Linked DNA regions of Homo sapiens. The main gene of each other region encodes a partner of the protein of the gene in region 2 in a complex. Each region holds a gene or a part of one and is shown on either strand. Other genes may lie near its edges.

Evidence for each region.
Region 1: GATB (region 2) and GATC share a complex: the UniProt entries of both Homo sapiens proteins name them as parts of the heterotrimeric GatCAB amidotransferase (AdT) complex.
Region 3: GATB (region 2) and QRSL1 share a complex: the UniProt entries of both Homo sapiens proteins name them as parts of the heterotrimeric GatCAB amidotransferase (AdT) complex.

Annotation. Positions count from the first base shown.
Region 1 is NC_000012.12:120,455,209-120,464,357, forward strand, and holds the end of GATC (glutamyl-tRNA(Gln) amidotransferase subunit C, mitochondrial), read left to right. Parts: intron 1-1,867; coding exon 1,868-1,971; intron 1,972-4,698; coding exon 4,699-4,751; 3' UTR 4,752-6,810; coding exon of another isoform or gene 6,811-6,954; 3' UTR 6,955-8,541; downstream 8,542-9,149. Other genes in the region: SRSF9 (serine/arginine-rich splicing factor 9), read right to left, coding at 6,811-6,954, 8,742-8,914. UniProt on the Homo sapiens protein: Allows the formation of correctly charged Gln-tRNA(Gln) through the transamidation of misacylated Glu-tRNA(Gln) in the mitochondria. The reaction takes place in the presence of glutamine and ATP through an activated gamma-phospho-Glu-tRNA(Gln).
Region 2 is NC_000004.12:151,668,762-151,674,914, reverse strand, and holds the end of GATB (glutamyl-tRNA(Gln) amidotransferase subunit B, mitochondrial isoform 1 precursor), read left to right. Parts: exon of another isoform or gene 1-2,018; coding exon 2,019-2,153; exon of another isoform or gene 2,154-3,326; intron 3,327-3,612; coding exon 3,613-3,741; 3' UTR 3,742-4,411; downstream 4,412-6,153. UniProt on the Homo sapiens protein: Allows the formation of correctly charged Gln-tRNA(Gln) through the transamidation of misacylated Glu-tRNA(Gln) in the mitochondria. The reaction takes place in the presence of glutamine and ATP through an activated gamma-phospho-Glu-tRNA(Gln).
Region 3 is NC_000006.12:106,625,725-106,634,726, forward strand, and holds the start of QRSL1 (glutamyl-tRNA(Gln) amidotransferase subunit A, mitochondrial), read left to right. Parts: upstream 1-3,853; 5' UTR 3,854-3,957; coding exon 3,958-3,981; intron 3,982-4,118; coding exon of another isoform or gene 4,119-4,152; exon of another isoform or gene 4,153-4,362; intron 4,363-4,602; exon of another isoform or gene 4,603-4,767; intron 4,768-9,002. Other genes in the region: RTN4IP1 (NAD(P)H oxidoreductase RTN4IP1, mitochondrial isoform 1 precursor), read right to left, coding at 3,024-3,297. UniProt on the Homo sapiens protein: Allows the formation of correctly charged Gln-tRNA(Gln) through the transamidation of misacylated Glu-tRNA(Gln) in the mitochondria. The reaction takes place in the presence of glutamine and ATP through an activated gamma-phospho-Glu-tRNA(Gln).

The DNA.
Region 1 (9,149 bases), on a different chromosome or scaffold from region 2:
CCCAGGCTTGAGTGCAGTGGTGCCATCTCAGCTCACTGCAACCTCCGCCTCCTGGGTTCAGGCGATTCTCCCGCCTCAGCCTCCCGAGTAGTTGGGATCACACGTGCGTGCCACCACGCTTGGCTAGTTTTTGTATTTTTAGTAGAGATGTGGTTTCCCCACGTTGCCCAGGCTGGTCTTGAACTCCTGAATTCAGGTGATCCACCCGCCTTAGCCTTCCAAAGTGCTGGGATTACATGCAAGAGCCACCACACCTGGCCTTTCTCCCCCACACCCCGCCGCCCCCCTCCAAGAAATTTAATGTCTGAAAAGATCATACTTGTTCAAGGCCACACAGTTAAGAATGTGCCAGGTCCTGTAACAGACTTCAACTTTCTAATATTCATACCATGAGTAAATATTTGTTGTGTCTAGCTTTGGGCTGGGTGCCACAAAAAAAGAACTAGTCCTTTCCTAAAATAATCTTATTGTGACAACTTAGTTCTCTTTTTTTTTGAGGCAGAGTATCGCTCTGTCGCCCAGGCTGGAGTGCAGTGGCGCGATCTCGGCTCACTGCAAGCTCCGCCTCCCGGGTTCACGCCATTCTCCTGCCTCAGCCTCCCAAGTAGCTGGGTCTACAGGCGCCCACCACCACGCCCGGCTAATTTTTTTGTATTTTTAGTAGAGATGGGGTTTCACCGTGTTAGCCAGGATGGTCTCGATCTCCTGACCTCGTGATCCGCCCACCTCGGCCTCCCAAAGTGCTGGGATTACAGGCGTGAGCCACCGCGCCCGGCTGACAACTTAGTTCTTATGTGCAGCCTTAGCCCAGATGTACCTGTCACATCTTTGTCCCTCTCTGACATGACTCAAACGCCATTAGGGTCTGCCCTCAGTCTGTGCCCACTCAAAGCAGGAGGAGCGTGGCTACTACCGAATACCATATCAGTGATTTAACAGACTGCTTATTTTTTTAATCTAAGTATCTGGAAGCAGGCTTACACACTTTTACACCTTGAAACAATAGTGAAGCCTCATGCAAATGTTCAAGCTCTTGTGTGTTTTTTACCGGTTTGCCATCTGAAGGCTTTAGTAAAGTCACTAGGTCCCACAGAACACTGGGAGATTCTTGAGCTGTTGGTGGCACATCTTGCTCAAGGGCAGGCACATCCACCAAAGTGGCTGTGGTGGAAAAAGCATTCATTTTAGGTGTATCAGATTGGGCTGAGATCCCAGTTGTTACTTAGCAGCCAACATCCTTAAGTTACTCTTGTGGCAAGTTTGCTTCCCCATCTCTGCTTAGCTTTCCAGCTTCATCTTCCACCCCGGCAGACCACACCCCAGCCTGCTAAACTCCCTGTCCTTCTCTGAATCTCTGAGCTCTCGGCTCTATTGCTTTGGGATTCATGCTGCTATACGTGCCAGGAAGTCCATTTCTCATACCTTCATCCCCCAATCCAGCTATTTCTTGCCCATCCTTGAACAGTGACATCAGCTATTCTGAGGATGTGCTACTCACGCAGGCTGGACTAGGTACCCTTTCTATCCTTTGGCAGGCTGTACTAACCTCTGTTAGATTTAAAATATTGTTTTTGTAATTGCTTTTACCTGTCCCCACCAAAAGACAGTTGCCCATATAATCATCAAAAACTATTTGTTAAATCAATCCAGAGAAGTAATTAGCACTTACTTCTCAGGGTTGTTCGGTCAATCTATAAACTGTAGGCTGTTATTTGGTCTACTGTTGATCCCAGCTTCTCTATCTTTGAACAGTGCCCATTAACTCAAGAATATACTGCTTCCTTGTTCTCTCCTTCTTGCCCCTCTCCATCATCCCCTAAAAGCCCCCTTCTCTGAGAGGGTAACCTTGAGCTTCTGGGTTTTGTAGATGTCTATACCTGAGATCCGACAATGTGGTAGAAGGCAACTGTGCTGATGAATTACTACAAAACTCCCATCGCGTCGTGGAGGAGTACTTTGTGGCCCCCCCAGGTACGTGCTGCCCAGAATGGTTTAACAGATAGTCTCACAGTAACCTTAGGAATGAAGCAGGAAGCATGAGGACCAAAGATGCTATGTGAAGGCACTTTGAAAAGGATGAAGTGCATACAGATGGTGGCATTAAGGTGGCAGTAGGGTCCAGGGTCATACTCACCTCTAGGGGGCAGTTAGTAACAGGAACAAGCAAAACAGGATTGGGGGCATGCGGGAGGTTTAAAGTAGGTGGAAATCTGGAGCTCAAGATCTCCCTAAAGGGGCAGCTGGCATTCAGTGTTTCTCAAAGCCACAGTTAAGACCCTGCCAGATCCTGTAATCGACTCCAACTTTCTAGTATTCATACCATGAATAAATATTTGTTAGGTCTAGCTTTGGGCTGGGTACCACAAAAAAACCAGTCCTTTCCTAAAAGAATCCTTTTTTTTTTTTTTTTTTTTTGAGACGGAGTTTCGCTCTTGTTGCCCAGGCTGGAGTGCAATGGTGCAATCTCGGCTCACCGCAACCTCCACCTCCCGGGTTCAAGCGATTCTCCTGCTCAGGCTCCCCAGTAGCTGGGATTACAGGCATGCACCAGCACGCCTGGCTAATTTTTTGTATTTTTAGTAGAGACAGGGTTTCACTGTGTTAGCCAGGATGGTCTCGATCTCCCGACCTCAGGTGATCCACCCACCTCGGCCTCCCAAAACGAATCTTATTGTGACAACTTAGTTATCATGTGTGGCCTTAGCCCAGATGTTTCTGTCACATCTTTGCCTATGACATGATTCAAACGCCATTAGGGTCTGCCCTCAGTCTGTGCCCATTCAAAGCAGGAGGAGCATGGCTGCTACCCTATCAGTGTTGCCAGGCAGGAATGTAAACCCATTTCTCCAGAGAACCTGGATACCTGACATTTTGTGTGATATTTCTTAAATTTTTTTTTTTTTTTTTGAGATGGAGTCTCGCTCGGTCACCCAGGCTGGAGTGCAATCTTGACTCACTGCAACCTCTGCCTCCCGGGTTCAAGCAATTCTCTGCCTCAGCCTGCCGAGTAGCTGGGATTACAGGTGCCTGCCACCATGCCTGGCTAATATTTTTGTATTTTTAGTAGAGGCAGGATTTCACCATCTTGGCCAGGCTAGTCTTGAACTGGTGATCTACCCGCCTCAGCCTCCCAAAGTGCTGGGATTACAGGGGTGAGCCACTGCACCCCGCCGATATTTCTTAAATTTTAAGTGCTAGCAACCAATTCAAAATTTAAAAAACAAAATACCATCCAAGCCAAATAAAACACATCTGCAAGCCAGGTGCAGTCTGTGAGCCATCAGTTTACAACAGCTGGTATAGAGATTTGCATCATCTACCTACTGTAAATATTTTAAATAGAAGCTTTAAAATTACTCTGGGCTGACAGTAAAATCCAGAACCTTGGATAGGTTGACTGTTTTTATCTCCTCTGCAGGTAGGTGAATACTTGGAGCTGTTGTACTACCCCTCTGGGCATCTGGGAGTGGGACTAGCCAAAAGCAATCAGGTAGCCTGCTAAGTGCCAACTTCCAGTTCAGGATATCCTGAGGGAGAATCATTCTGAGCAGACTCCACAGAAGACATTGGCCCTGGTCAGCTTAAGGTGCCAGTTAAAGGCAGGCTCTGGTTGATGCAAGGATGGGAAAGAAAGCTAGAAATTTTGTGAGCTAAACTTTTTGTTTGTTTTGAGACGGAGTCTTGCTCTGTTGCCCAAGCTGGAGTGCAGTGGCGCGATCTCGGCTCACTGCAAGCTCCACCTTCCACGTTCATGCCATTCTCCTGCCTTAGCCTCCCAAGTAGCTAGGACTACAGGCGCCCACCACAACGCCTGGCTAATTTTTTGTATTTTTAGTAGAGACGGGGTTTCACCGTGTTAGCCAGGATGGTCTCTCTCTCCTGACCTCGTGATCGTCCGCTTCGGCCTCCCAGAGTGCTGGGATTACAGGTGTGAGCCACCGCACCCGGCCGTGAGCTAAACTCTTAATCATGCCTCCAATCCACTAAACCACCTGTTAACTGTGGAGAGAAAGGAGACTCTCCATCTCAGAGCCTGATAGTTGTGGCTCCAGCAGAAATATCTTTTGATCAGACATGCTATCTCCCACACAGAACCTTACTTCAGACTTTGCTTTTTGGGACCACCTGAGTTCATGGTCAGTGTTTCCTTCTAGTCCTATCTGCATATTAGTGGCTAATCAACCTGTATACTCCTTACTGAAAAAGGTGAATTTGGCTACACTTAGAACTGATTCTTTCAGATACTCCCAGTTAGGAAAACAGGACAGTAGCTACATTACTTCCATATTTTCCATGAGAAAGTAGTGATCAGTTAGCTCAGTAGAGCCAGCTGGGCGGCAGGCTCAGCTATAACATTCTCTGTTGTGGCCGGGCGCGGTGGCTCATGCCTGTAATCCTAGCACTTTGGGAGGCCGAGGAGGGCGGATCACGAGGTCAGGAGATCGAGACCATCCTGGCTAACACGGTGAAACCCCGTCTCTATTAAAAATACAAAAAATTAGCCGGGAGAGGTGGCGGGCGCCTGTAGTCCCAGCTACTCTGGAGGCCGAGGCAGGAGAATGGCGTGAACCCCAGGGGGCGGAGCCTGCAGTGAGCTGAGATTGCGCCACTGCACTCCAGCCTGGGCAACAGCGAGACTCTGTCTCAAAACAAAAACAAACAAACAAACAAAAATTCTCTTTTGTTATTTTCAAACAGGTAATATCTCTTTGCCAAAGCTGGATGAACAAGAGCCATTCCCACACAGCTGAGTAGCTCATTCTGGAAAGGGGGTACTCTGTGAACATGTGGAAGCATAATGACAGTATTTTTTTACTGTGAATACTAATGTTCCTGCTTTTTTCAGTCCCCTGAAAAAATGGATGCTCAAGCATTTCTTAATAACAGATTCTTCTGAAGACAGAATTGGGAAAGATCTGGCCCCAACAAGGCAGTGAGTTCCTGATGCTAACTGAGGTGAAAGAAAAGCAAAAGTCAGCTTCCAAGGAATTCACTTAACAGGCCTGTTCAGTATGGAAGACATTATTTATCTGCCTTTAACTCCCCCCAAAGGACCATACCAACTGCATGAAAGTGAACTTTTCTATCTACGTAACTGGTAGACGGAGCATCTTGATCACTATGTGACAACCTTGGCTGTCATTTTTAGTTGCCATTTGCATTGATTTGAGCAGCCCTATCTTTACCGAACATACCTGAATTTGTTCCTGGGCTCCCACTTTCTTCCCAGAAGAGGGCTAACTTCCTACTAAGGTCTGAAGAGTGTTGAAAGTAGACTAGAGCTTGGGAACTCCTAACCTAGAACTATCTGCCATCCCACAAAGTGATTATATGCCAAAGGGATACTAGTCATACCTAGTGTTTCTCTTTCTGAAAAGAGAACTTATCCTAAAATTAGCCCTGGGCCTGGGACAAAGGAGCCCTCTCCGCCCCCAAAATGATTATTAAATTGAGATGAGTCCAGGATAAAACTCAGATACCAAGGATAAATGAAACTTATTTAGGGATAAAAGTGGGCTGGGCGCAGTGGCTCACTCCTGTAATCCCAGCACTTTGGGAGGCTGAGACGGGCGGATCACAAGGTCAGGAGATCAAGACCATCCTGGCTAATGCGGTGAAACCTCATCTCTACTAAAAATACAAAAAATTAGCTGGGTGTGATGACAGGTGCCTGTAGTCCCAGCTACTCGGGAGGCTGAGGCAGGAGAATGGCGTGAACCCGGGAGACGGAGCTTGCAGTAAGCCGAGATCGCACCACTGCACTCCAGCCTGGGCGACAGAGCAAGTCTCAAAAAAAAAAAAAAAGTGATAGAATCAGAGAGTTTTTCCTCTAACCAAACTGCCAAAGTTGGTTTTGGCTAAGAATTTCCCAATAATATTTATGCTGCTGCTCATTTTTTTAGTTTTCTGAGACAGGGGTCTCCCTCTGTCACCCAGGCTGGAGTGCAGTGGTGACAGATCACTGCAGCCTCCAACTCCTGGGCTCAAGTGATCCTCCCACCTCAGCCTCCTAAGTAACTGGGACTACATATGTGCATCACCACGTCCAGTTAATTTTTTTTTAAGTAGAGGTGGGGGTTTTGCTATGTTGCCTATCTGGTCGTGAACTCCTGGCCTCAAGGGATCCTCTGGCATGCCTTGGCCTCCCAAAGGGCTAGGATCACAGGCAAAAGCCACCGTGTGTTTATTTTTCCCATTCCCTTCCTTTATCTGCAATGCTTTTTTCTTTAAGGCAGCCTAATTTACAAGCTTGGCCTTGAATTAAAAGAGAACCCAGAACCCGCTCTTGGAGTTTACGTTCTCAAACCAACATCAGAGCAACTGTCTATCCCCATATAAATAAAGTTATCTACCCCTGCTCCTAACTGGGTACAAGTTATGACTACAACTCAGTGATTTTTTAAATTAGTGTGCCTATTTGGTGAAATCTGTGAACTTAATCAAGGACAACCACACATGTCAATTACTAAACATTTAAAATATATTTCTAAACAGAATGGGCCGACTCAGTCACAGTAACTGTTGATCTCCATAGTAGAGCAACCCACAAAGACAGAACTGATTTTTTTCCCATAATCAGGGGTGAAAAATATACAACTTGTTTCTGAACCAAAACCACAATTTCTGCAGTTTAAAATGTTTCACTGCTAATATGGCCCTGGTAGAAATTATGTAGTTTTTTTTCTTCTTTAAAAAAAAAAAATTAAAAAAATTTCCTAAGACACTAAATCCTCAATCTGGAATGTAGATTCTGAGCACAAAGCAGCTCAGTTAACCTAAAAAATAAAGAAAAAATTCCCATCACCTGTCTCAGTAGGGCCTGAAAGGAGAGAAGTAGTGTGGGGAACCCCTGCTTTGGTATGGAGAGTCACGGCCCCTTGACCCAGACCGAGACCGTGAGTAGCCATAGCTGGTGCTTCTCTCAGGATAAACTCGGATGTAGGAAGTTTCACCCTGAAATGCAAACAAAAACAAAAAGAGTAAAGGGGAAAAAAATCAGAGCCAGAAGAATAAGCAAACCAACATCTAACAATAATAGTTAAGTATTGAGCACTTACTGTGTACTCTGTGCCTGGCATGAGGCTATCTCATTAAACCTTCATAACATTATGAGGTAGGTACTCTTACTATCCCATTTCAAGAATGAAGAAAATTAAGACTTAAGTTATATCATTTGCCCAAGGTAACACAATAAATGCCAATTTGACATGTTGATACTCAATTAACTATGATAAACAATATATCTGAATTACTGCCATTGACCCCCCTCAAAGCTAAGAACTGGAAAGGATCTCAGGGGTCATATAGTTTAATCCCCTGCCACCTCATGTATGCATCTTTGGATGGGCATCTATGGAAGGAGCTAGCCTGTATTTAATACCTTCCAGATGTGAGGACCTGAGCTAGATGCTTTAGACGTTATCCTCTTGCTCTAGATTCCTGGCAAGTCTTGTGATGGTGCTATTATGTGACCATTTTGCCCATGAAGGAATCGAGGTCCCAAGAGTAGTTCAGGTAAGGAATTAATAAGCAGCAGAGGAGTCATGTCCAGGCTGGCTTGTCCCCAGGCCCTCTGCCTTCAGCCACCATTCTCAGAAGATCCAAAGATGCCAAGGGGAAAGAAGCCGGATGCTTTTTCACCTTAGGTGAAAGTCAGTAATTGGAGTTACCCTTTCTGAGGCCCTGCTTTGCAGTATAACTGAGGATCAGGTGCTGTTCTGTTTCTGCTTCAAATTCAAGTCCTAGAGGACAGTCTGAACAAAAGCATCATTAAACCAGGGAAGGACCAACCTCTAAGCCAAAAACTAGGCAATTATATGAATCCTCAGAAAAAGAAATGAGCCCAGAGACCTGTGTCCCCAAACATCCGTAAATCTCATAGTAAGGCAGGACAGGATAACCAGAAAAAAACAATGTCCAACTGGTCTGGTTTCTGGTCTCAATGGTACCAAAGGGATAGTCACCACCTCAATCAAACTGAGATCCAAAACAGCAGCTGCTTTCCTACAAGGAAAGACATCAAGAACTACTGAGTCTGAAGGGTGACATAATCAACCACAAGAAAATGTTACGGTTTAGCCTGGCACAGTGGTGCATGCCTGCAGTCCCAACTACTGGAGAGGCTGAGGTGGGAGGACTGCTTGGGCCCAGGAGTTCAAGGTCAGCCTCGGCAATATAATGAGACTGTCTCTAAAATCAAAAATTAGAGAAATATAAAAATTATAAAATTAAAAAAGAAAATGTCATGATAGCTCAGGTTTCAGAGAGGATGCTGCACTACTCTGGGAAAAAAGTGAAGTGACAGCTCAGCCCTGACAGCAGGACCTAGAAGGGCTGAGATGAAGAGGCTGACCTGTAGAGCTCAGCCTGGACCCACAGGAGGGGTAGTTGAGTTCACAGAGGGATACTGCCATTTAAGCTGGTTGTGAATGGGGTGGTATGAAGACCGACTGCACTAGTATTCTCTCCAGGTTACAAATACCATGACCAAACTGTGTAATGTGATACTAATATGCAGAATAAAGCATATTAAAAAACAAACGTACCATGAATGCATACTTCTTTCAGCTATGACCCTGAAGGACTTAGGCATAGCAAATTCCATGGCTTTGTCCACCTAAGATAGATCTCTTATGGTACTGTGAGGTTACCAAATGGCATGGCCTCTTGCTACCTCTGCTAGGTCAGGTTCAAGTGGAGTGATTTGAGTACAAGCTCCTCAACAGAAGGCAAGGACCCACCTCATGAGAGCGGAATTTGGTGTCATCCAGTTTACGCAGGGCATATTCCATGTCTTCTTTTCTGAGATACTCGACCATCCCCACTCCATCCTTCTGCACATCAGCATAACAGACATCCCCAGCTTCTCGCATGTGATCCTTCAGGTCCTGCCAGCTGCCTGACGGAGGAAGTCCTAGGCATGGAGAACATAAGAAAGCCCACATCCTTCAGCTATGTTAACTGCCCTGTTAAGAGCCAGCAATACCTATGGTCCTTTCTCCATGATCACTTAAATCCTGAGGGTCCCCAAATCATAAACCTTGATAAGGGACATGAAATCAGAAAAGAGCACTGAAGTATGTGTGGTAAATGAACCACCTTGAGAAGCTGGTTTTAAGTTCATCTTCCAGAGACCAGGCCTTTTCAAC
Region 2 (6,153 bases):
CCGCCTACTTCCAGGCACAGGCTGCTCGTCCGCCTGGTTTTCCTGGAGGGAACTGCTGCGTAGATTTTTCACGAGCAAGTCCTTACAGGTGGTTTCTGTTTTGAGCCAGGTTTTCAGCTAGGAGCTTTTTTGGGAGTCTGTGCAGATGAACAAAATCAACACTGGTCAAAGTCTAGATATCTACGAGGAGGGGATAAATTATGATAAATACATCTGATGGATACTAGCTAGATCTTTTTATTAAGAAAGTACTTCTGTGCTAAATGAAAGAAAGCAGGACACAAACTGAATATACGTTATGATCCCAAGTATGTTACAAAACAGAAAGAAAAAGATGGGAAGAAAAAACACCAAAATATTAACATTGGTTTTCTTGAGAAAATGGGAATTCCGGTGATCTCTTTTGATCTCTCCTGTATTTCCTTATATTTTCTGCAGTGAATGTGTATTAACTTTTATTATTAGAAAATGATTTTTAAAATTTAAGTCCTAGTTCAAAAAATAAACGTGTCAGAGAAAGGGGGCAGATGGACTCCTCCGACTTACAGGGCAGCTCCATGGAACGCCATCCAGGTCCCCAGTGCTTCTGCTGGCAGCACTCCACTGATAAGCATGTTGAGAGTGAGGAAGTTTCTTCCCGCTTCTGTGCCCCCTTTCTCCCAATGGTTTCCTCATTGTCAGGCCACGTACATATCTGCTGAATTGAGTTGGAGGCACGTGCATTCTGTATTTTTCTAAGAGTAGGGCCAGGCTTTTCCTGAGCAGTCGGGCAGCGGCAGAGGGGTGCCCTGTAGGGAGCTTACCCAGGACCTGCCAAGCACACCTCCTTGGCCACAGTCACAGCGCACGTTCTGAGGCACCAGGCTGAAGGCGCAGTGCCTGTCCCAGCAGTGATAAGTATTTGTGGTTTGTTTTTGAATCAGACTGGGGAAGACTTTGAGCCCTGCTGAGACTCAGAGCATCTCCCTTTTATTTGCTTTGCTGTTCGTGCTAATTATGGAAGAGCTCTGTTTTTCCAGGAGGAATGGCTCCTGGTTGGCCCGTTCTCGGCCACCAAGGTAACAGGGAAAGTTGGGTGTTCAGTCATGACTGTGGACTGGACGGAGGTGGCACCGGTGGGAGACCAACAGAGGAAGCCCTCCTCCCGGCTCCCAATTCTGGCTTTCGCTAGAAGACAAGAGAAATGAGGAAAACAGCTACCCTAGGAAATAGCCTTCCTTGAAAATGGTTTCCTTTTTCTCAGGTTTGATGAATTTGGGGATTTGTTGTTGTCATTTTTTAAGTAAAAAAAAAATGCCCCAAACATTAGCGTTCATTATCCTAGTCTGATTTGGGTCCGGCTCTACCTGTAGGAGATGAATGTGGTAGGCCAGGGGGCCCCTGTGGATTCTAATTTATGTTTTCAGTTGTTTGCCATTTTGTATCTTCATTACGGGGCTACTTTCCTGCCTCCCTAAAGTCATCTTTCCCAGCATGCTGTTTCTGGACTTTATTTAGTACCGTGGTTACCTCCTGCAGGCTGTGTGGCCCCATCCTTCACCAAAATGTCACCTCAATTAATTCGGCGGCCATGAGACAGATCCATCAGTGGCCCGCCGACTCCCGTCAGCAGGCGCCCATGAGTGATGGGCACCTCCACGCCTCCCGCGGCCCCCCCCCGCCATGTGGAGTCAGCCGGGCAGGACTCACCATCCCTCTGGGCACGAGGGCATCTGGCTGGCCCGAGTCCTCTCACACCTTATGCTGAGGGAGACTTCAGCCTCAGGAGGAGACCCCAGGTGCATTCACTCCACCTAGCTGGCCTTGTTCCCCAGCCCTGCACTCAGGGATGCCTCAGGAGAGCCAACGCTCTGGCAGGGCAGCCAGGTGCCCTTTCCCTTTGGGCCAGGCCCAGGCAGTGGGGACTTAATTGAATCTGCTCATTCCCACCCCAGCTCCACACAGCACAGCACTGCAAATGGAGCTGGCAGAAGAGCTGACTTCTCATTTCTCTTTCCTCTCCCTTCTCTGGTCCATAGGTGTTTGAGGAACTGTGGAAGAGGGAAGGCAAGACTCCAGGGCAGATTGTTTCAGAAAAGCAGCTTGAACTGATGCAGGACCAGGGGGCACTGGAGCAGCTCTGCCACTCTGTGATGGAGGCCCATCCTCAAGTGGTGACTATCTCGGGCAGGGGAGAGGGCCAGAGCCAGCCCCAGGACATGCCCAAGAGCCTCGCCATCGCTCCCTGTGGCAGCCCAGAGGCTCTTCCTAAGAATGGCTGACCCAGTTTCATCAATAATTCCCTCACTGTCATCTTTTTAGTTAAGGTCAGAAGAGATGAAATAGGTGGATATTGGAAAAACACAACTTCTTTTCCTATAAGAAGGATGCCACCCCTGGAGTTTACTCTCCATGGAGGTGTAGTTTAAAAGGGTGTCAGCAAGCTCACGAAATCCAAGCTGTGACCTCCCAGGTGTGTCGCCCTCTCCCAGGGTTGGCATTTCGAATCTGTTGTGGTTAGCGCTACTTCCTAAGGACCTCCCAGTAAAGAACCAGCAGGTGTGCCGGCAGAGCAGGGAGAGTACAGGAACTTCAGCTTCATGCTTCTAAGAGGTGGGAAGAAAGGCAGAAGGGAAAAGTATTCATAAATTGTGGAGAAAATCCCTGACAGGAGCATGACTGAAAACCAGGTCATTTTGTGTTCTTAGCACAGCACAAGACATAAAAGCTAAAACGAGTGGCATCCCTCCCTCCCCAAGTCTAATCATATTGTCTAGAGATATTTTTTCAGTGGGGAAAAAAATTGTCGGCATCTTTTTCAGAATAATACCCACCCACCCATCAGCTTGCCGGGGACACTCACAGCTCTGTAAAGAGCTCTCGATAAGGAAAATGAGCCTGCACTGGGCCTCCACAGCCTCGTCTTCCTGCCTCATCTGTGGTGACTGATAAAGACGTGCCAGTAGTTTCAGGCTTGTTCTGTGGCACTTGAGTGCAGATCCTCATGTCATTGCCCTTGGAGACGCTGCAGAGCAGGAGGTCACGTGGTGGCCCTAAGAGTCAGTGGCTATCTGATAGGAATTCAGCACCTCCTGGCTTCCTCACTCCCCCTGCCCACACAGCACACTCCCCCCGACCCAGCGCTCTGGAAGACTCGGCCAGTGTGTAGATCTGCTTTCTGATAAAGGAATCTTCTTGGTGGGGAGCAGGGGGAGAAGGAAAGCCACACATTTCAGCTGAACATCACTGAGAATCAGAGAGGTGTCCTCACTGATTAGACGCAGTGATTCATCATCTCAGAGAGATTATCCCTCCCCAGACTCAGTGTCCTCGGTCATTGTGGCGTCGCAGAGGGGAGGGCCCTGGCTCCCACGTGCCAGCTTCTCTGGCTTTCGGCAATCACTTCTTGCTCATTTTAATCAGAAAGCAGAGTAGCAAAAATCTCCTTTGACAGGAGCCTAGAAACCTACTCAGAAGTGAGGCCCCTCCCCTTTTTCTGTTCTACATTTTATGTCTAATACTAGTGGAAATAAGCGGAATTTAATTTTCAGTAAACTTAAGCCTTAGTTTGGGATTTGGGGGCATGAATCCCTTCATTTTCTCCTCTTAAGTAAGTAATTTCTGTCCTTCTAGGTAATGGATGTGAAGAACAGAAACCCCAGAGCTATAAATAAACTGATTGGGTTGGTCCGGAAAGCGACTCAAAGCCGAGCAGATCCAGTCATGATAAAGGAGATCCTGGAGAAGAAGCTGTCATTGTGAGATGTTTGGGATCCCCTTGCCCAAGGGACAACAACAAACAGTGCAGCCTGACTGGGAACAGGATCCTGTGAAAGCTGATGCCCATGTGCCCTGAGAGCTGCCTCTCAATCCCTGTCCCAAGCCACAGCTATGGCATTAATGTCACCAGTGTTCTCACCCTCTAGGCCCTGTGCCTGGAGGTGCCTCCACAGCCGACCAGCAGCCACCCCGCCTGCTTCATCCACATCAGGAGGGTCCGGTGAGGCTGCAGCAGTGGTTAAGGAGTAACACCTTCTTGTATTAAGGAATTTTAAACTAAATAAAATGTATGTTGGAGATACTGTTACCCATTCTAAGAAAACTTTTCATTCTGCAGTTCCTTCAACAAATATTTTTGAGCAACTCCTAAGGGCCAGCCATTGTAGGTGATGGGCATTAGCAGTGGTCAAGAGAGACTGTAATTTGGATGTATTGTTTTCAGACCTAAACACAGGTTAACAAAGATGAAAATACAACCAAATAAACTGGCACAGTATAAACACATTTGTTTGTTTAAGGAGGTCTCAAGAGGGTGGGGAAGGAGGATATTATTAGAATTAATCAACCTATCGACTGAGTAGAAGTGATATTGCCTGTTAAACTCCCTCCCCATCCCAGAAGGCACAGTCTGAGAATAAATGAATTAAAAAAATAAGTTTTCCAATAAATTTAATCAATAAAATATATACTGAAATATCACATAAAAATTAACTTACACTTCAAAGATTGTGCAGCTGACAACTCCCCCAAATCCCCCAACCCTCAGGCCAAACAAGATAAAAAGAAACAAGAAAAAAGTTGTAACATGAAATTGACTTGTTTTGCTTGGAAATAAGATTATAAATTAGTAAATCAAAATCTTGACCTCTCATGATAATCGTGGTGTGCTGCAGGCATCACGATGAAGGCGGGGCTGTCTGCACTCCTGTGCTTGCGACACTAATACTGTTCTCTCCACTGCACCGGAGCACCTTTGTTCGGTATATATATGCCTTTGTTACCTCTGACTCACGTCGCTTAAAGACCAGTTTTGCAAATGTTGTTTTTTAAAAGCATACTTGTCAAAACTGTGATGTAAGAGAATAAAATCCTTGGAGGCCTTGATTTGAAGCTGTGAACCTGTAGCCTACCAAGGACAGTAAAAACATTCCCGTTGTGAACACTGCTCCAGAAGCAGCTGAGGAACTAGAAAAAAGTGGACACCCCTCCATCACCAATTCAGCGACTCATGCTTCCTGGCTTGCACAGTTCCTCAGGACTTCCCTGAGAGTGATGAGAAAGGTGCCCCTCTTCCCCAGCCCAAAAGGTAGGCAGAGAAAGGTAACCAGTTGCGTGGTTCATTTTGGACAGGCATGAGGAGGTGGCTTTTTAAAAAAAGTCGTTTAAAAAAATTAGTGACAGAATTTTAAGAGACTATGTGACCTTACCCGGGAAGCCAGGTGCCCCGCATCCTGTTGCGGTCCTGAAAACTACTGGGTCTAAAGTAACATGATTTTCACCAAATCTCTCTACAAGACAGTAAGGCTGAAGCAGTTCTCTCCTCACTCTGCAAGTCTGAATTACAAATGGGCAAAGGTGGTCTGAGACTGGAGTCTGACAGGATCTTTATTTTGTAAGAAAGGAGAAGGTTCAGTTTCATTTTATAAATTCTGTTTTCACCAAAAGTTCTGGCTTCTTGGTGACTAAACCTTACAGAAAGCATCGAAGATCTTTCCAGACCATTTAAAATTAAAGGCTTACTTAAAAGGGGGTGCAGCCAGAAAAAGACATTTACCAAAACTATTATGTCAAGTGCAAACTGTATTAAGGACTGATTATTCCCAGAGGAAGATGCCCTTGTTAAAGCACTTGATTTGTCCAGGCTGATTCTCATTCAGCTCTGACAAACTGCCTGTTGTCTTGAATGCCAGCTTCTGAAATCCTGAAAGCCAAACCTTGTAAGTTGATATCATCACTGCTGCTAGGAAAAACCCAAAGCATGGCTCTGACTGAAACCCGATGAGATATTCTAAAGATATGTTTACATTAACACCCCAAGAAATTCGCAAAGATGGCTCTGCTTATAAAGGGGCCTCAGTGAAATACAATTTTACATTCTTGCATGAGTGTGCGTTTAGTCTGGTCTACTGGTTCACCCTTCAGGGAGAAATCTCATTAAAATGTATGAGTTGGCACCACAGGTGATGCCATTGCCATCTGTCTCAGGAATCCACACACCTGTAGGCTGGGTGTATAATGCTGAGGCTCTGACTAGAAGTTAGAAGTGTGCTGGAAAACTGGCTCTGCCCCAGGCTGGCTTGAACCAGCTCTGCCTGGTCAGGCCCAAACCCTGTGTTCTGTTGCCTGGGGAGGAGGTTGGAGGGTTCTGGTGGGAAGGCAGGAATGTGCCAGCCC
Region 3 (9,002 bases), on a different chromosome or scaffold from region 2:
GTGATCTCGGCTCACTGCAACTTCCGCCTCCCGGGTTCAAGCGATTCTGCTGTCTCAGCCTCCTGAGTAGCTGGGATTACAGGCATGCGCCACCACGCCTGGCTAATTTTTAGTAGAGACGGGGTTTCTCCATGTTGATCAGGATGGTCTCGAACTCCTGATCTCAGGTGATCCACCTGCCTCGGCCTCCCAAAGTGCTGGAATTACAGGTGTGAGCCACTGTGCCCAGCCTTTTCCTTCTTCTTAAGAAAGGAGAAATAACAGCAAGTCTGTATACTAATGGAGATGATCCAGTAGAAAAGAAAAGACTGATGATGCAGGAGACACCTGCCGGAATGATATCCCAGAGTAGGTGAGGGGGATGGGATCAGAAACACAAGCCGAGGGCTGGCCTTATGTGAAAGCAGTGACAGCTAATCCATACAGCAGGAGGGAAGGTAGAAGATACCGAGAGAGATGCTGACAGGTGGGTAGCTTGCATGAGTTGTGTTACTAATAAAAAATCAAGACACATGGGATAAAGTGTTTGAAAGGTGGGAAAGTCCCAGAAAATCTAAGCTGATGGCCATTATACCAACATTACAACATTTGCCATCTGGGGAGTCAGGATTATACTCTGTCAGGGAAAAAAAAAACAACTTCACTTGTAATATTCACAAAAGTCATGTGCTTCACTTTTCCTGCCTTACATTCCTTTTCCACTGCTAAAGATAATTAAACAATTATTCACTGAAACTTCTATGTGGTTTGAACAACAGAAGTGGACATTTAGTCGTGTCAAACTTTAGCTGCTGTTTAAGAGCTGCAGAAAGGTTTCAGTCCTCTTTGAGATACAGAGCCTGCAGCCCAAGGTTGTTTTTAGTTTTCTTGGTCCCCTGATAATGCTAATACATCAACTGAGTAGCCTTGGCTCACTGTTACTATCTAACAAGCCCCTGAACCCAGAATGTAGTCAGCTGGCAGTTAGTAATTGAGAACCTGTTTGGTGACACGGATGACTGAATGGGGCCCTTAAGTGTTCCATCCTATTGACAGGGGTTGACACCTTGACTTGTTCAGAGAGTTGGGCCAATTTGAAAAATCCTAAATCTGTCATCAGTTTAAAGACTTTAATCCCATCTAAAGACACCAAACTTTGTTGGTATGATGCTGTTGGCTGCATTTTTTCCCCATGTAAAAATTCTTCATTTCTTTAGCCATTTCTATGATTTATTATTTTACGTCCAACAGTAGTGGCCGTCTCCAGAAAAACAGCCAGCCTTCATCTTTCAAATAAAATAGACATGTCTCTTGCTTTCTTGCCAAGGGAAATAACTGCTTCCTACAGTTTACAGTCTTCTACTCATTATTTTATTTCCCCAAGCTACTGTTTCAGATATCTTCTGCAATGACAATAAATATCCTCAAAAGGTAGGAGAAAAAAAAAAAGAGGATAACTTGCGAATAATATTACCCATTCAAGTCATAAAAAACTAAGATGTTTCAAGAATACTATATAAAAGTAAAATGTTTTACAGTGTTATATTATTAAACAGCAGCCAAGAAAAGTCTAGATACAGCCATTCTGTTTAAATGAAAATGTACACGGCATGAATTACGCATGTGCATTTAAAGAAATAAAAAGCTAACAGACCTAAACGAAGACAAAATGTAAAAATTACTCATAGATAAAATACTGCTAATTTAAGTTTGTTATCTTAAGTCAGAACAAAAATATAAAAAGGCATAGAAATAGTGACTGAATGACAACTGCGTATGTGAAGCACTGAAACAGGTTGACAAAGCATGGGATCAATCTTGAAAGAACTTACAATCAAAGGAGATGAAAAAACATGCTGATCATTGAGTAAAACTTACCACTAAAAGACATATCTTATAAAAAACTGAATTCTCTTCAAGCCTAATATAAAAAGAATAAAGGAAAACGGCATGCCCAACTGGTAGTAGCAATTACTACTTCAAAACAAAGAATACAAACGTAGACTTCATGAGACAATCACAGTAAAGTCATTTCAATGCTTTTTTTTTTTTTTTTTTTTTTTTTTTTGAGATGGAGTCTCACTCTATCGGCAGGCTGGAGTGCAAGGGCGCGTTCTTGGCTCACTGCAACCTCCGCCTTCCGGATTCAAGCGATTCTCCTGCCTCAGCCTCCCACCAACACAGTGAAACTCCCGTTTCTATAAAAATACAAAAATTAGCTGGGTGTGGCGGCGCATGTCTGTAGTCCCAGCTACTTGGGAGGCTGAAGCAGGAGAATCGCTTGAACCCGGAAGGCGGAGGTTGCAGTGAGCCAGGAAAGCGCCCTTGCACTCCAGCCTGCCGATAGAGTGAGACTCTGTCTCAAAAACAAACAAAAAACCCCATAAATTCTAAACTGACTAGGAAACAACTATACTTCCGAAGCCTGTGACGGATCTCAGAATACCACAAAGTTCCCTGGACAGAAATTTAGCTACAAACATAGGCAGGGCGCAATGGCTCGTCTGTAATCCCAGCACTTAGGGGGCGGAGGCAGAGGATCGCCTGAGGTCAGGAGTTCGAGACCAGCCTGACCAACATAGTGAAACCCCATCTCTACTAAAAATACAAAAAATTAGCCCGGTGTGGTGGCATGCGCCTGTAATCCCAGCTACTCGGGAGGCTGAGGCAGGAGAAATTGCTTGAACCCAGGATGCGGAGGTTGCAGTGAGCTGAGATCAGGCCACCGCACTCTAGCCTGGGTGACAGAGTGAGACTCAGTCTCAAAAAAAAAAAAGTTAGCTACAGACACAGTTCTCAAGTCTGAACTTACATATTTAAGGACGCATGAAAACAATCAAGCTTATATTTTGTCAATACAAATGGCCAGAAGGATTCCCTGGCCATTGCAATTTCAAAAATTTTGGAAATATTTGCAGAGGTATTGTTAAAAACCTAAATGATTCATTTATGTAAACCAAAGAAGCGTAGTCAATTTTTTAAAACGGCATACCTTATGAAAGTGATTTTTTTAAAAAAGGTAACAATGTCTTTTGAAAACTTACTTCTCATATTAACGTCTATAGGATTTACACTGGCAGCGTGAACTTTGACAATGACTTCATTTGGATAGTGTATGATAGGCATCATCATGTTCTGAGTGAATCGAAGCACTTCATTCTTCCCATATTTATCTATCACCCAAGCAGGCATGACAGTGCTCCTAGGAGAGGTAGTACTAATCCTTCTAACTGAAGGCTTTTGGACAACTTTGCTTCTCCAGAAGCAAACCGCAGTGCATGCATTTCTTCTAAGTACACAAGTCTTCAGAAATTCCATTGTAAACACTGGTTGAACTGCGTGCTCAAATTCAAATACACTTGGACTGGATCAAACTCTCACCCCTGAATTCAGTCAAATTCTGCCAAACCACGGGCTAGTTTCAAAATTAAGCATGCAAAACGGAGCATTCGAAAATGAAGCTAATCTAATGGAGAAACTGAAAGAAGAATACGGAACTGTTATTCCGCTCTTCGCATATGAAATGCTCGAATTAACGTTCCAGTCAGTATTCTGTCCATTCTCCTCCCTCACTTTCACCCCCTCCACTTTAAAAAAAAAAGGGGGGGCGGGGCATTAAAAAGCAGGTGCGCAAACCCCCTAGATCCCTGCCCTGTCCTGGGAGCCCTCGGCGGGACAAGCAGACACCGCTCGCGATCCAACGCCAGAGAATCGAACGCTTGCCGACTGCCGCCGCGACCCTGGCCCGGAATCTCCTTGCCTGCCCGCTCTCCTTAGCCGCCGGGATGGCTTTGCGGCGCCAACCAATCGCCTACAAAGATCATTTCCTCGGGCTGCAATTCAACCAATCCAAGTACTCGGTGTTGAAGGGCTCAGTGACAATTAAAGATGGCTGCGCCCATGTAACATCACTAGCGACCGGTGACCTCTTTTTCCCCCTTGCCTGGCTCCTGTGGTGGCAGGCTGGGCACGAGGACCATGCTGGGCCGGAGCCTCCGAGAAGTGAGTGGAATTGGCCCGCTGAGGCCCCCGGGAGGGCGGAAAGTTTAACGGACTTCGTTGACAAAGAGTCCCTGGGCCTTACCACGCATCTTGGCCCACCTCGCTGCTTCCTCTAGAACTGAGTGGGGGATAAGTACCTTTCGATTCTTCGGGTGTACTCGCCGTACCCATTCAGGAGTTAGGACCTTAGCAGGGAAATCTCTGCACCGCGGATCTGTAGGGTGGTGAAGCGGCTTCTCACCATTAGACATTTGCTCTGGTGTAGGTCGGGATCCGGATGGTCTCGGAGTGGGCTTTGCCAAAGGGGGCTTGCGGGGCCACTTCAGTCTCTCTTCTGTCCCCGACACTTAGCTGCAGTTGTCGCTAAGAAGCCCGGCGAAACTGTAGTTTGCAAAATTCAAATGAGTAATTTTTGGCTTTTTTCAAAGAATTCGTTCTCTAGGATTTACCTACCACTAAGATACCAGTGATTTCCTAACCCGTGTCTCCATGTCCTGGACGTCGTGTTTGAATTCTAGACTGTATTTGTGAATGCTTTCTGGGCAGTTCTTCTAAATGTCACATAAGCACCCTCAAATTCACTTTAATCGGTGTTGAAGTAATCATTGTAACAGGACTTACCTCTCAACCCCCGTCTTAAAAAAGCTCTGGTATTTCTGAATTCTTAATAGACTCTTTTTAATGGCACAACTATTATCTCATTTGCCTTTAGATTCTTCCTCATCTTTCATATCCAATAAATCACTAAGCCCTCTTCATTCTATCTTGCAGATATGGCTGGAATCTGCCCTCTTACGTTATTTCTGCTGTTATAGCTTTAATTCGGGTCTTTTTGCTTCCTGGTTCACGTCACTCAACCTTAGAACTGTCTGCAGGCCCATTGCTATCAGAGTCACATAAAGCACCTGTTGAAACTAAAACTATGCCCCACTCTAGACTTAATTAGAGCTGTGTGGTAAGTTCGGGAGTATGGTTTAATGGAGGCTCCAGGTGATTTCTGGTAAGAAGTAGGCGCTGATGACCTAAACTGCCTTCCATCTTCCTTTTTATTCCACCCTAGAAGTTGTCGTTTTGTTTGTTTCCCAGCTGGCAGCGTGGAATTATAATTATAGATAGCTGTAATATATAATGAGAAATTGAAATCCACAGGCTTTAAATAATAGTTCTTCCCCCAAAATACATTATTATGTTATCATTTTAAATTGCGTCGAATCAAATTTGTTCTTTAAAAAATAAATATGCCCGGCGCGGTGGCTCACGCCTGTAATCCCAGCACTTTGGGAGGCCGAGGCGGGTGGATCACGAGGTCAGGAGATCGAGACCATCCTGGCTAACACGGTGAAACCCCATTTCTACTAAATATACAAAAAATTAGCCGGGCGTAGTGGCGGGCGCCTGTAGTCCCAGCTACTCGGGAGGCTGAGGCAGGAGAATGGCGTGAACCCGGGAGGCGGAGCTTGCAGTGAGCCAAGATCACGCCACTGCACTCCAGCCTGGGCGGCAGAGCAAGACTCCGTCTCAAAAAATAAATAAATAAAATAAAAATAAATAAACAGACAACACCCAAAACTTGTTTTAAAATTAAATACAACCTATAAAAATATGTTATTTCCTTTTTCTGCCTTTTCCACTGTCAATCTAAGTAACAGAAAGAGACTCTAAAGAAAATATTTATTTTGGAGTAGCAATGCAATGGGAATATGTGTAATATTGTAAACTATGTGCCTATTCAAGAAGGTTGAGGCAAGGGATGTTTTTAAAGACAGAATGAGAAGGATTACTTAAATTATTTTGAATCAGTTATCCTTGGCCACAAGGATCAGTCACAAAGGTGGCATCAGTCCAAGGTTGGATGGCCAGTTGCTGGACAGACATTCTTACAGAAGTACTCGTGTGTGTGGAAGGTTGCAATGGCCTTTGTGCAAGGTTGTGTTTTTTGCAGTCTTATGATTGTTTTTAAAAAAAAATTTTAATGGGTACATAGTAGGTGTATGTATTTATGGGGCACATGAGATATTTTGATACAGGCATACAATGCATAATAATCACATCAGAGTAAATGGTGTATCCATCACCTCAAGCATTTATCATTTCTTTGTGTTACAAACGTTCCAGTTATACTCTTTTAGTTATTTTTAAACGTACAATAAACTATTGTTGACTGTAATCACCTGCTGTGCTATCAAATACTGTATCTTATTCATTCTGTCTAACTATATTTTGTACCCATTACCCATCCCCACTTCCCACCCCTACTACTACCCTTTCAGGCCTCTAGTAACCATCATTCTACTCTACCTCCACGAGGTCAATTGTTTTCATTTTTAGCTCCCACAAATAGGTGAGAACATGGGAAGTTTGTCTTTCTGTGCCTGGCTTATTTCACTTAACATAATGCCCTCCAGTTCCATCCATGTTGTTGCAATTGACAAGCTCTCGTTCTTTTTATGGCTGAATAGTACTCCATTGTGTACATGTAGGACATTTTCTCTATCCATTCATCTGTTGGTAGATACTTAGCTTGCTTTCAAATCTTGGCTATTGTGAATAGTGCTGCAATAAACATGAGAGAGCAGATATGTCTTTGCTATGTTGATTTTCTTTCTTTTAGGTGCATATATACGTAGCAGTGGGATTGCTGGATCGTATGGTAGTTCTATTTTTATTTATTTATTTTTAATTATTTTTTTTTTAGAGATGGGGTCTCACTATGTTGGCCAGGTTGGTCTTGAATTCTTGGCTTCAAGCAATCCTCCTCCCTCAGCCTCCCAAAGTGCTAGGATTACAGGTGTGAGCCACTGTGCCCAACCAGTAGTTCTATTTTTAGGTTTTTAAGGCACCTCCATACTATTCTCCATAGTGGCTGTAGTAATTTACATTTCATCCAACTTTTCTCCATCCTCACCAGCATTCATTATTGCCTGTCTTTTGGATAGAAGCTATTTTAACTGGAGTGAGATGATATCTCATTGTAGTTTTGATTTGCAATTCTCTGATGATCAGTGATGTTGAGCACATTTTCATATACCAGTTTGCCATTTATATGTCTTTCTTTTGAGAAATGTCTATTCCAATCTTTTGCCCATTTTTAATTTGATTATTGGATTTTTTCCTGTTGAGTTGTTTGAACTCCTTATATACTTCGGTTATCAATCCCTTGTCAGCTGGAGTGTGATAGTTCTTCTTATCAGGCATTCATGCGTGAGAACCCTCTCTTCTTGACCTTCCTTGGCTCCATTTGTCAGGATTTTAACACAAGTCACTCTATTTTGATTTTGACAACTGTCATAGCTCCTTAAGTGCTACCTTTTTTAGTGCTACTTCTCTCTGGTGTCATTGAGTTAGCCATTGTGAAAAACAACTTTTGCCGCATGGGGGGAGAAAAGAACTATTTAGGAGAGCTGACCCAGGGGAAAATCCAGAGGTTGCCTTGGCATGATTGCTTTTACTTTATCACTCCTTTAACAAATACTGATTAATGCCTAGCATGCAAAATATTTGGTGGTTATTTCCCCAGCTCTAAAACTACCTTCTGTCTACTTTGTATTTTTTCCACATCACTGTACTGTTGCCCTAAATTCTACCAATTAGAGATTAATTAATTCATACAAATTATCTTTTAATTTAATTCTCTTTTAAATATGTACAGATGCCTGGGAAGGTTGAACAATTTTTCCACCCATTGTTGTAAATTATAACAGTTCAAATTTCTTCATAATACCTTAATTGAGATAATCAGTTGAAGAGGGGGAAATTTGCGGGGAATTAGGGAGAAGGGCTGGAAATGATGGCAGCAATTTGGGGGATGTGAGTGGAAGCTTATGGTAACAGGAGTCCTGGGAATAGGCACAAAAAGGAGGTAAAATGCCAAATAGGTAAAATTCCCATTTGTAAATTTTACCCAAGTACATTCAGAAAGGGGGAGGAAATCTCACTTTTACCTTTGTCTTTTGTGGCATGATCCCAGTGTTTCTAGGAGTGAGGCACCAGGCTAATATTATTAATCCTAAAGTTTAAAGAATGATATATTCATTTGGCTTCTTGGAGCTTCAACTTTAGAAAAACTAATCATTGTTCTATAGGGAAATCGATTCTAAATTTTAAACAACTGTTATTCATTCAACTAACATTTAGTGAGTACCTCTGTGTTCCAAGTACTGGGGGGTAGCATTAAAGACGGACAGAAGCTCCTGCTTCCTGAAACCTAACTTTTTTGTGTGGAAACGCAGCCATTAAACACTTTAAAAAAAAAAAAAAGTAAATGATATAATTTCAGGTAGTATGAGTACTATGGAGAAAAATTAAGTAGATCATAGTATGAGAACTAGTTGGGGGAGCTGGACATTTTAGCTAGAGTGGTCAGGGAAGATTTCTCTGATTGAGTGAATAATACTTAATAGAGACCAGAAGGGCATGAAGGGGGAACACTGGGCAGATCTGAGAGAATAGTGTTCCAGGCAGATGGAACAGTAAGTACAAAGACCCTAAAACAAGAGCAAGCTTAACATGTTCAAGGAATAGCAAAAGGGCCAATATGCCTGGAGAGAAGTGAATGAGGAGAGCAATGAGAGAAGAGGTTAGGGAGACAGGTAGGAGCCAAATTGTGGAGAACCTTTGAGGCCACAGTAGGGAGTATGGATTTTATTCCAAGTGTAATGGGAATCTTCTGGAAAGTTTTGAATCTGTGGACATGATCTGAGTTAAAATTTTAAAAGCTCCTTCAGATGACTCTTAAGGGACCATGATCTTTAGAAAAGCAAGTAATAAAGCACAAAGACTGACCGGGTGCAATGGCTCACGCCTTTAAACCCAACACTTTCGGAAGCTGAGGCAGGCTGATTGTCTGAGCTCAGGAGTTCAAGACCAGCCTAGGCAATGTGGCGAACCCTGTCTTTACAAAAAATACAAAAATTAGCTGGGCATGGTGGTGCATGCCTTTAGTCCCAGCTGCTCAGGAGGCTGAGGTGGGAGGATCACTTGAGCCTCGGAGGTTGAGGCTGCAGTGAGGCGAGATCACATCC